Linked DNA regions of Homo sapiens: region 2 is reported to be linked to region 1. The links are microRNA targets in miRTarBase. Many come from high-throughput screens and were not tested one by one. Region 1 holds a microRNA gene; the other region holds the end of a gene's coding sequence.
What was found. The annotated mature microRNA hsa-miR-6883-5p reads AGGGAGGGUGUGGUAUGGAUGU and lies in region 1 at 2,441-2,462, shown strand. An mRNA with a match to its seed (bases 2 to 7 or 8) in the 3' UTR can be bound and repressed. Matches are read on the target gene's strand: a 7mer-m8 pairs with bases 2 to 8, a 7mer-A1 pairs with bases 2 to 7 and ends in A, and an 8mer does both.

Region 2: the mRNA of RFTN2 is a reported target of hsa-miR-6883-5p. Seed matches in the 3' UTR shown: 7mer-A1 at 3,280-3,286, 7mer-A1 at 1,915-1,921, 7mer-A1 at 1,296-1,302, 7mer-A1 at 1,129-1,135, 7mer-m8 at 1,024-1,030 and 7mer-m8 at 166-172.

What each region holds. Positions count from the first base shown.
Region 1 is chr17:8,143,440-8,147,506 of GRCh38, reverse strand. It overlaps MIR6883 (microRNA 6883), which reads left to right and starts at 2,436; the gene lies at 2,436-2,513. PER1 (period circadian regulator 1) reads left to right here. Exons shown (of 23, transcript NM_002616.3): 12 at 1-37; 13 at 126-257; 14 at 505-610; 15 at 742-913; 16 at 1,005-1,135; 17 at 1,370-1,549; 18 at 2,514-2,756; 19 at 3,631-4,067.
Region 2 is chr2:197,568,572-197,572,638 of GRCh38, forward strand. RFTN2 (raftlin family member 2) reads right to left here. Exons shown (of 9, transcript NM_144629.3): 9 at 1-3,709. The coding sequence ends at 3,437. It overlaps LOC124907952 (a long non-coding RNA gene), which reads left to right. Exons shown (of 2, transcript XR_007087918.1): 2 at 3,411-4,067. Among named protein-coding and RNA genes, the nearest start is that of MOB4, 55 kb to the left of the region's middle.

The sequences.
Region 1 (4,067 bases):
GGAGCTGTCAGAGCAGATCCACCGGCTGCTGCTGCAGGTGAGAGTAGCGGAGAGGGAGCCTGGGAGGTGAGAAAAGGTGTGGGAAGCCGGGTCAAGCCATCTAACCTGCCCTCTCCCTGCTGCAGCCCGTCCACAGCCCCAGCCCCACGGGACTCTGTGGAGTCGGCGCCGTGACATCCCCAGGCCCTCTCCACAGCCCTGGGTCCTCCAGTGATAGCAACGGGGGTGATGCAGAGGGGCCTGGGCCTCCTGCGCCAGTGAGTGACCTGCTCCTACCTCACCCTCTAATCGCCCTTTCCCCTCTCCTTCTTGGAACCAGCACTGCCAGTCCCAGAGTCTTGCCCGATCCTCCTTTGCCCTCTCCTTCCTGCCTTTTCCTTCTTGTCCTGCTCCCATCAAGGCGTCTGTGCCTCCCCACTGGTACCTTCTTGTTTTATTGTGCCCTTGGCCCCTGACACTGGCGACACCCCCTGGTTCTGCTCACTGTGGTGCTGTGTCCCACAGGTGACTTTCCAGCAGATCTGTAAGGATGTGCATCTGGTGAAGCACCAGGGCCAGCAGCTTTTTATTGAGTCTCGGGCCCGGCCTCAGTCCCGGCCCCGCCTCCCTGGTGAGTTGATGATGATGTGTGGGTGAAGAGACAGACCTGGGGGGTCCCCTGACCTTCACCCCCAACCCATTTGCTGTTTTTTTCCATGTGAGCTTGAGAAGGCTATTTTCCTCTTTCTCTCTTTGCCCCAGCTACAGGCACGTTCAAGGCCAAGGCCCTTCCCTGCCAATCCCCAGACCCAGAGCTGGAGGCGGGTTCTGCTCCCGTCCAGGCCCCACTAGCCTTGGTCCCTGAGGAGGCCGAGAGGAAAGAAGCCTCCAGCTGCTCCTACCAGCAGATCAACTGCCTGGACAGCATCCTCAGGTAAGGCCTGCCAGGCATCTTCTCCACCTCGGGCTCTAACCCTGCCCACCCCAAGCCCTGCTCTGATGCCCTGTGCTGTGTCCATCCCCAGGTACCTGGAGAGCTGCAACCTCCCCAGCACCACTAAGCGTAAATGTGCCTCCTCCTCCTCCTATACCACCTCCTCAGCCTCTGACGACGACAGGCAGAGGACAGGTCCAGTCTCTGTGGGGACCAAGAAAGGTAAAGATCCAATGCACCCTGCTCCCACTGCCCCGTCCTGGCCTGGTGGCCCTGTGTCTTTTCCCTTCTGCTTCTGGGCCCTCTTGCTCTGCCCTGCTCTCCTCCCCAGCCTCCTGGTCTCCAGACTGTTCCCTCTGTTCCCTACCACCATCCCCTTCCCCTTTTCCCTGGGATCCTCTCTCCTGACTTCCCAGTGGGGGTGGGGATGGTAACTGGCACCATCTCTCTGCACAGATCCGCCGTCAGCAGCGCTGTCTGGGGAGGGGGCCACCCCACGGAAGGAGCCAGTGGTGGGAGGCACCCTGAGCCCGCTCGCCCTGGCCAATAAGGCGGAGAGTGTGGTGTCCGTCACCAGTCAGTGTAGCTTCAGCTCCACCATCGTCCATGTGGGAGACAAGAAGCCCCCGGAGTCGGGTATGGGTGTGGAATTGGGGGGCAGTGCTTGGGCTCCACCGGTCTCCCAGCTAGAGCTCCCTCCTGCCTTTCCCCTCCCCTCTAGGGCCTGATGGAGAGAAGGAGGCCTCCCTTGACCTGGGGCTTGGGGCTACTGCTTCTTGCTCTCCCCTCCCTGCCAGGCTTCTCGGCTTTGCCCTTCCCCTGTTCTGCTTCTCGTATTGTTACTGTCAGTTGAAACACAGAGTCTGGGATAGAGGGTTTGCCCTGAGGTGCTGACCACACAGGGTCTGAAGGCAAGGAAAATTGAACATCCCTGAAGGGTCTTTGGATATTGACCTTGAAAATCATGAGGGGCTGGGCATGGTGGCTCAGGCCTGTAATCCCAGCATTTTGGGAGGCTGAGGTAGGAGGATCACCTGAGATCAGGAGCTCGAGATCAGCCTGGGCAACATGGTGAAACCCTGTATCTACTAAAAATGCAAAAATTAGCCGGGCGTGGTGGCGCGCGCCTGTAGTCCCAGCTACTCGGGAGGCTGGGACAGGAGAATCGCTTGAACCCAGGGGGTGGTGGTTGCAGTGAGCTGAGATCGCACCACTGCACTCCAGCTTGGGAGAAAGAGTGAGACTCCATGTCAAAAAAAAAAAAAAAAAGAAACAAGAAAATGTGTGAGGGAAGGCCAAGGGGTGGGCTTCTCTTCCAATGAGAGTTGTGACGGGGTCATCCCAGTAGAGTTCCTGGCAGGGAGTGGCCACTGGAGGGGCCTGAGTATCGTCTCTTCTTCTGGGCCAGCTTTGCATGGAGAGGAGGACCCAGGGCCAGCCGTTGGCAGAGAGGTGACCAAGAAACGTACATGGAGACCAGGCTTGGCTGTGGGGCAGAGCTGCCAGGGGTTGGCTAGGCTATCAGACAGGGAGGGTGTGGTATGGATGTGTTGACCCCTGAAGTGGTTCTGATGACCTTTCCCTATCTCACTCTCCTCAGACATCATCATGATGGAGGACCTGCCTGGCCTAGCCCCAGGCCCAGCCCCCAGCCCAGCCCCCAGCCCCACAGTAGCCCCTGACCCAGCCCCAGACGCCTACCGTCCAGTGGGGCTGACCAAGGCCGTGCTGTCCCTGCACACACAGAAGGAAGAGCAAGCCTTCCTCAGCCGCTTCCGAGACCTGGGCAGGCTGCGTGGACTCGACAGCTCTTCCACAGCTCCCTCAGCCCTTGGCGAGCGAGGTAGCCACCTGGGGCCTCCTGGAGCCTGCCCTCTGCCCAGTCTAGGACTGGATTGTTGGGGGGTGGGTCTTAAGGGAGGTGTTTCTGCTCCAGGGACCCAGGCTGGTGTTGCTTCCACCACTAGGCCCTGCCTAGGGACAGGCCCCTCGCTAGCTTCTCCCCACTAGGATGGGGTTCCGGGCTGCAGCCAGAGGAGGGCAGCCTGGGGGGATGGCACTGGGATGGGCAGGCAGAGGTGCTGTCTCCAGGTAAGCGACTTCAGGCCTAGCCTGGGGGCAGGGGCAGGAAGTATGCCCACTTAGGAGTCAGTTGTCACTGATGAAGAGACATGCATAGATTCTGGGCCAACTCTGGGTGGGGTCTGGGCTTCAAGGGCAGGTGGAAGGCAGCCCCTCCAGGTGCCTGAGGGAGATCCCCTGCAGGCAGACGCAGGACTCAGGACTGGGCTTTCCAGCCCCACTCTTCACTCCATTGCAAGCTAGGCAGAATACGGCCTCGATGGGCAGGAGGAATGCCTAGGCTGGCAGTGCCCACAGGAGTTTGGCGGACCAGAGCCATCTGTCCATGTGTCCATGGACTCACCCTGCTTCCTCCATCTGCCAGCATGCCTCCATCTTCCGCACACCCCCAGCTCGACCCCTCGTGTAACCTCTCCCTGGCCTTGTTCCTTTCTCAATAAATCCCCTTGTCCCTGGCTCCTGTGATTCTTCCCTGAAGGTGCCCCACCTCCTGAGTCCCCCGTTCTGTGTGGGTTGAGAAGCTCTCTCTGGGACCTTGGCCTGTCCTCTCCCTGGTCAGCGTGTCAGGGCAGTGTGGGTAGCAGGGGTACTAACCCCAGGTTGAGGTCCTTGCTAACCCTAGTCTCTCCCCACAGGCTGCCACCACGGCCCCGCACCCCCAAGCCGCCGACACCACTGCCGATCCAAAGCCAAGCGCTCACGCCACCACCAGAACCCTCGGGCTGAAGCGCCCTGCTATGTCTCACACCCCTCACCCGTGCCACCCTCCACCCCCTGGCCCACCCCACCAGCCACTACCCCCTTCCCAGCGGTTGTCCAGCCCTACCCTCTCCCAGTGTTCTCTCCTCGAGGAGGCCCCCAGCCTCTTCCCCCTGCTCCCACATCTGTGCCCCCAGCTGCTTTCCCCGCCCCTTTGGTGACCCCAATGGTGGCCTTGGTGCTCCCTAACTATCTGTTCCCAACCCCATCCAGCTATCCTTATGGGGCACTCCAGACCCCTGCTGAAGGGCCTCCCACTCCTGCCTCGCACTCCCCTTCTCCATCCTTGCCCGCCCTCGCCCCGAGTCCTCCT
Region 2 (4,067 bases), not on the chromosome of region 1:
ATGTATCCACTAGTACATTTTTATATAATGTGTTCTTAGTTATATACTATCCCCATTGTTAGCAATTTCACTTCATTTGATTCTCCATCTGAATTTACACTTTCCATACAGTACTACTCTGGGGCTCTGAAGAGTTAAGAGAAAGAAATCCTCTTTAGCCATATGGGGAGGGAAAGGGCCACAGTCCTTCCAGCCAAGAAGGAATGGTGGTGAGGAATCAATAACAGGCAAGGGCGGGAAAACGGGACAGCTCCTCTGGCACTCCAGAATGAAAGAAATGAAAATGCATCTGTTACATTTATATTCAAATATATAAACACCTGCTCCTGATAACACAAATGATTTGGAGATAGTTGTGATTTGAATAGACTGTAGCTCTGTCTCCTGCTTCTCCTCCTCCTGAAAGCCCTAGAATCTCTCAAAGAGGGTGACCTTTCCTTTTCTCTTTTACTGAAATGAATTGTAATGACACTGATAGAGCTGATTTCCCTGGTGATTAGGTAGGTGTTAAATGTGTCCATAAAAGATAACAAGGTGGTATACAATCCAAAGGGGATGGAATTAACACTTGGTATTGAAAACGAAGATGAAAATGCCATAGATACTACACCAAGGGGAATGGCAGATCTTCACCCAACATCTGGGATCTTGATACCTTTCATTATAACTTACAGGTTTTAAAAATTCACATGCCAGAGCCCCTAAGGAAATCATAGTGTTATAAAAAGAACTGAATATACAACTGGCAGATAATAAAATTAGACATATTTAACTCCTTAGGCATAGAGAGCCCAAGTTTTTTTCTTTTTTTAAAATAATAGGCTCATAGCTATTTACACACATTTAAAATACTCTAGAACCACTTGATCATAAATTATTCGCTATCATACAAATTCATCACATAACTTAAGGGTAATTGTTGGAGCAAATGCTTCTAAAACAAGTTTTGAGGATATGACAGACTAGTAAGTTTATTTTAATAAAAGTTATTTTAATAAGAAATAACTCAGATTAAAAATAAACGGGAGGGGAGAAAAAAATAAACTGAGAAAGTATGCTTACACAAATTTTTTAAAAAAGCGATTGCTTGGCTGGGTGCAGTGGCTCACACCTGTAATCCCAGCACATTGGGAGGCCAAGGTGGGTGGATTGCTTGAGGCCAGGAGTTCGAGACCAGCCTGGCCAACATGGTGAAACCCCATCTCTACTAAAATTACAAAACTTAGCCAGGCATGGTGGTGCAGGCCTGTAATCCCTGCTACTCAGGAGGCTGAGGCAGGAGAGTCACTTGAACCTGGGAGGCGGAGGTTGCAGTAAGCCGAGATTGCAGCCTGGGTGACAGAGTGAGGCTCTGTCTCAAAAAAAAAAAAAAAAAAAAAAAGTTATTGCTATATTTCTGAGTTTTTTCTTAGTCAAATATAAATTCCTATCTCTGTTTTTAATTTACTACTTCCAATCCCCTATGTATGTGGGCTGAATGATAAAGAAGTCTCTACCTCTTGTAGACCCTGGAATTGGGAAAAACAGATCTTTCTGATTTGTTCTTTGTGCTTCCTAACTTCATTACGTTTTATGGACTCCTGAAGCAGTGATTGTTTCTACCAAAAATCCACTAACTCTTGATTATGGAACTCAAGTCCATCTAAAAGTCAAAACAAAAACCATTTCTGCAAATATTGTTGACAGCTATTGCTATAGAATAAGACTGAGAAGAATATTCTTAAATTCCTTTATACTGTACTTCTGGATGATAAAAGTGGAATAATTCCTGTTAATTTTATCAGCAATTAATGGAGATTGACTTAGTTTAGATACACTATATAATTGATAACATGTAATACATATCTGTTATATGTATAAAACATATTATATGAAGGCCAGGCATGGTGGCTCACGCCTGTAATCCCAGCATTTTGGGAGGACAAGGCAGGCAGATCATGAGGTCAAGAGATCGAGACCATCCTGGCCAACATGGTGAAACCCCATCTCTACTAAAAATACAAAAATTAGCTGGGCGTGGTGGCGCACACTGGCTGTAGTTCCAGCTAATCTGGAGGCTGAGGCAGGAGAATCGCTTGAAGCCAGGAGGTGGAGGTTGCAGTGAGCTGCGACTGTGCCACTGCATTCCAGCCTGGGTGACAGAGTGAGACTCCGTCTCAAAAAAAGCCACAAAAAACCCCCAAACCAAACATATTATATGAATATTTGTGTTCAATAAAACAATAACACAATAAAAATGATGTTTTATTATTAAAATGATCTTACAATGTCAACATCAATGTTAATAAAAATATATAATAGGCTGAATTCATCAATGATAGAATAAGTTGTAATTCACTTGGAGGTTCCATCTTTCAAAGTAAGCCTTTCATAGATAAATGAAAATCCTTTATTTTGTAGAATTTTAAAGATTGTTAAAGGCTGGGTCAAGGCAAAGCCACCTCTATTAGAAGGGGAAAGAAAAGCAAGATGAAACAAAATATGTTATCATACATATCGCGTGTGCTATGAGCATCTTTCTACTCCTGCCAGATTGAAAATTCTAGGTTTCAACATTCTTCAGGATTTAACAAGTCAAAATAAAAGCAGAATTCAAATCTAGACAGATGTAAAAGACTTCAGTTTCAAATTGAAGTTGATATTTTTCCTCTTCATAGTATTTGGACTTTAAAATAAAAAAAAATTAAATCTTACTCTCTACTAAGGTATTTATGTATTGAGATTATGGGTTCTTTTCATATTGAATTTTAAGAGATGCTGCTTTGCTGTCTGCATTTTTAGGCTTTTAGGAGCAACAACATTTATGTACAATGAATCAGTACAGGGTTGGTGACATGACCCTTTAAAAGCAAAGATACATAAAAAAGATTTTTTTCAAAAAATATTTTAACACATAGGGGCTTGCTTTGTATATACATGCTATAGTTAAAGACAAAATGTGGATTAATTATTATATTTGGGAAATAGATATTTATTTGCACTAATTAGCTGTGTGTGTGTATGAGAGAGAGAGAAAAAAAAAGAGAGAGAGAGGTTATTTTTCAGCTTAAATAAGACTGTAACTTCCTGAGAACTCTCTCTAATTGGGTAAAATACTGATTGAGATATTCAGTCTCCTTACCAGGAATTGTAAGAAAGTCTACTTTGTACATTCATGAGAAGCTGAAATAGATTATTGTGTAATAACCGAATGGAACATCTGTTTAACCAGATGTTTTAGTTGAGAGAAGTGTAAACATGATTCTAAATGTATAAATATGTTGGTTATTCTTCCTTGTCTGGGAGGTTGTGCCAAAGTTTACATAGATTAGAGGAAAGGCTGGGTCTGGAAAAATTCAAAAATATTACATAAATGCAGAGAAAGTAATACAATAAGGTCAGTTGGCAATGATTTTAACAATTATTTACAGGGCCTTCCTTTGCTTCACCTCATGGCTCACATACAAGTGACCTGAGTCACTCCATCTTCCTGATCAAACTGTCCGTCGTCTAATTCCCGGAGGACGTTGTCACTGCTGCTGAACCCAGAGAAGCTGTTGTGCTGTGCCAGCCTTCCCTCCTTTGTCCAGCATTCCCGGGAGGGAGAAAGGCGGCACTCCTCAGGCAGGTGTCTGCTCTCTGCAGGTTGTGACGAGGTTGTGTCTAATCCGATGCTTCTACTAGTGGCTTTATTCTTGTCTTCACCTTTTATGTGGCGGCTGGCTTTCTTCTGAAACACAAGACATTGGTGACCAGGAGAGTTAAAAAGATGGGTGTTTCCTGTCCCTCTGGTCTAGCACATGCTGCCTTTCTGCCTCCAGGAATGTCCTTTTCCCCAGCTCTTCAAAATCCTGCTCATCTTCAACGACCAGCTCAGAGCTACCTCCACATTCCCCTCTCCACCCAAATACAAATGAACTCCCTTCTCCCTGTTTTGTAACTCTTTGTAGGTTCCTGGCACATCATTCTTGTTGATGGGTATGTTATGTACACATCTCGGCCCTCAGTGACATCTCTAAGGAAGGAAATTTGTTGAAATCATACTTTGGGAGAACAAAGCAAGGTATAAATACTAATATGTTTTTCTT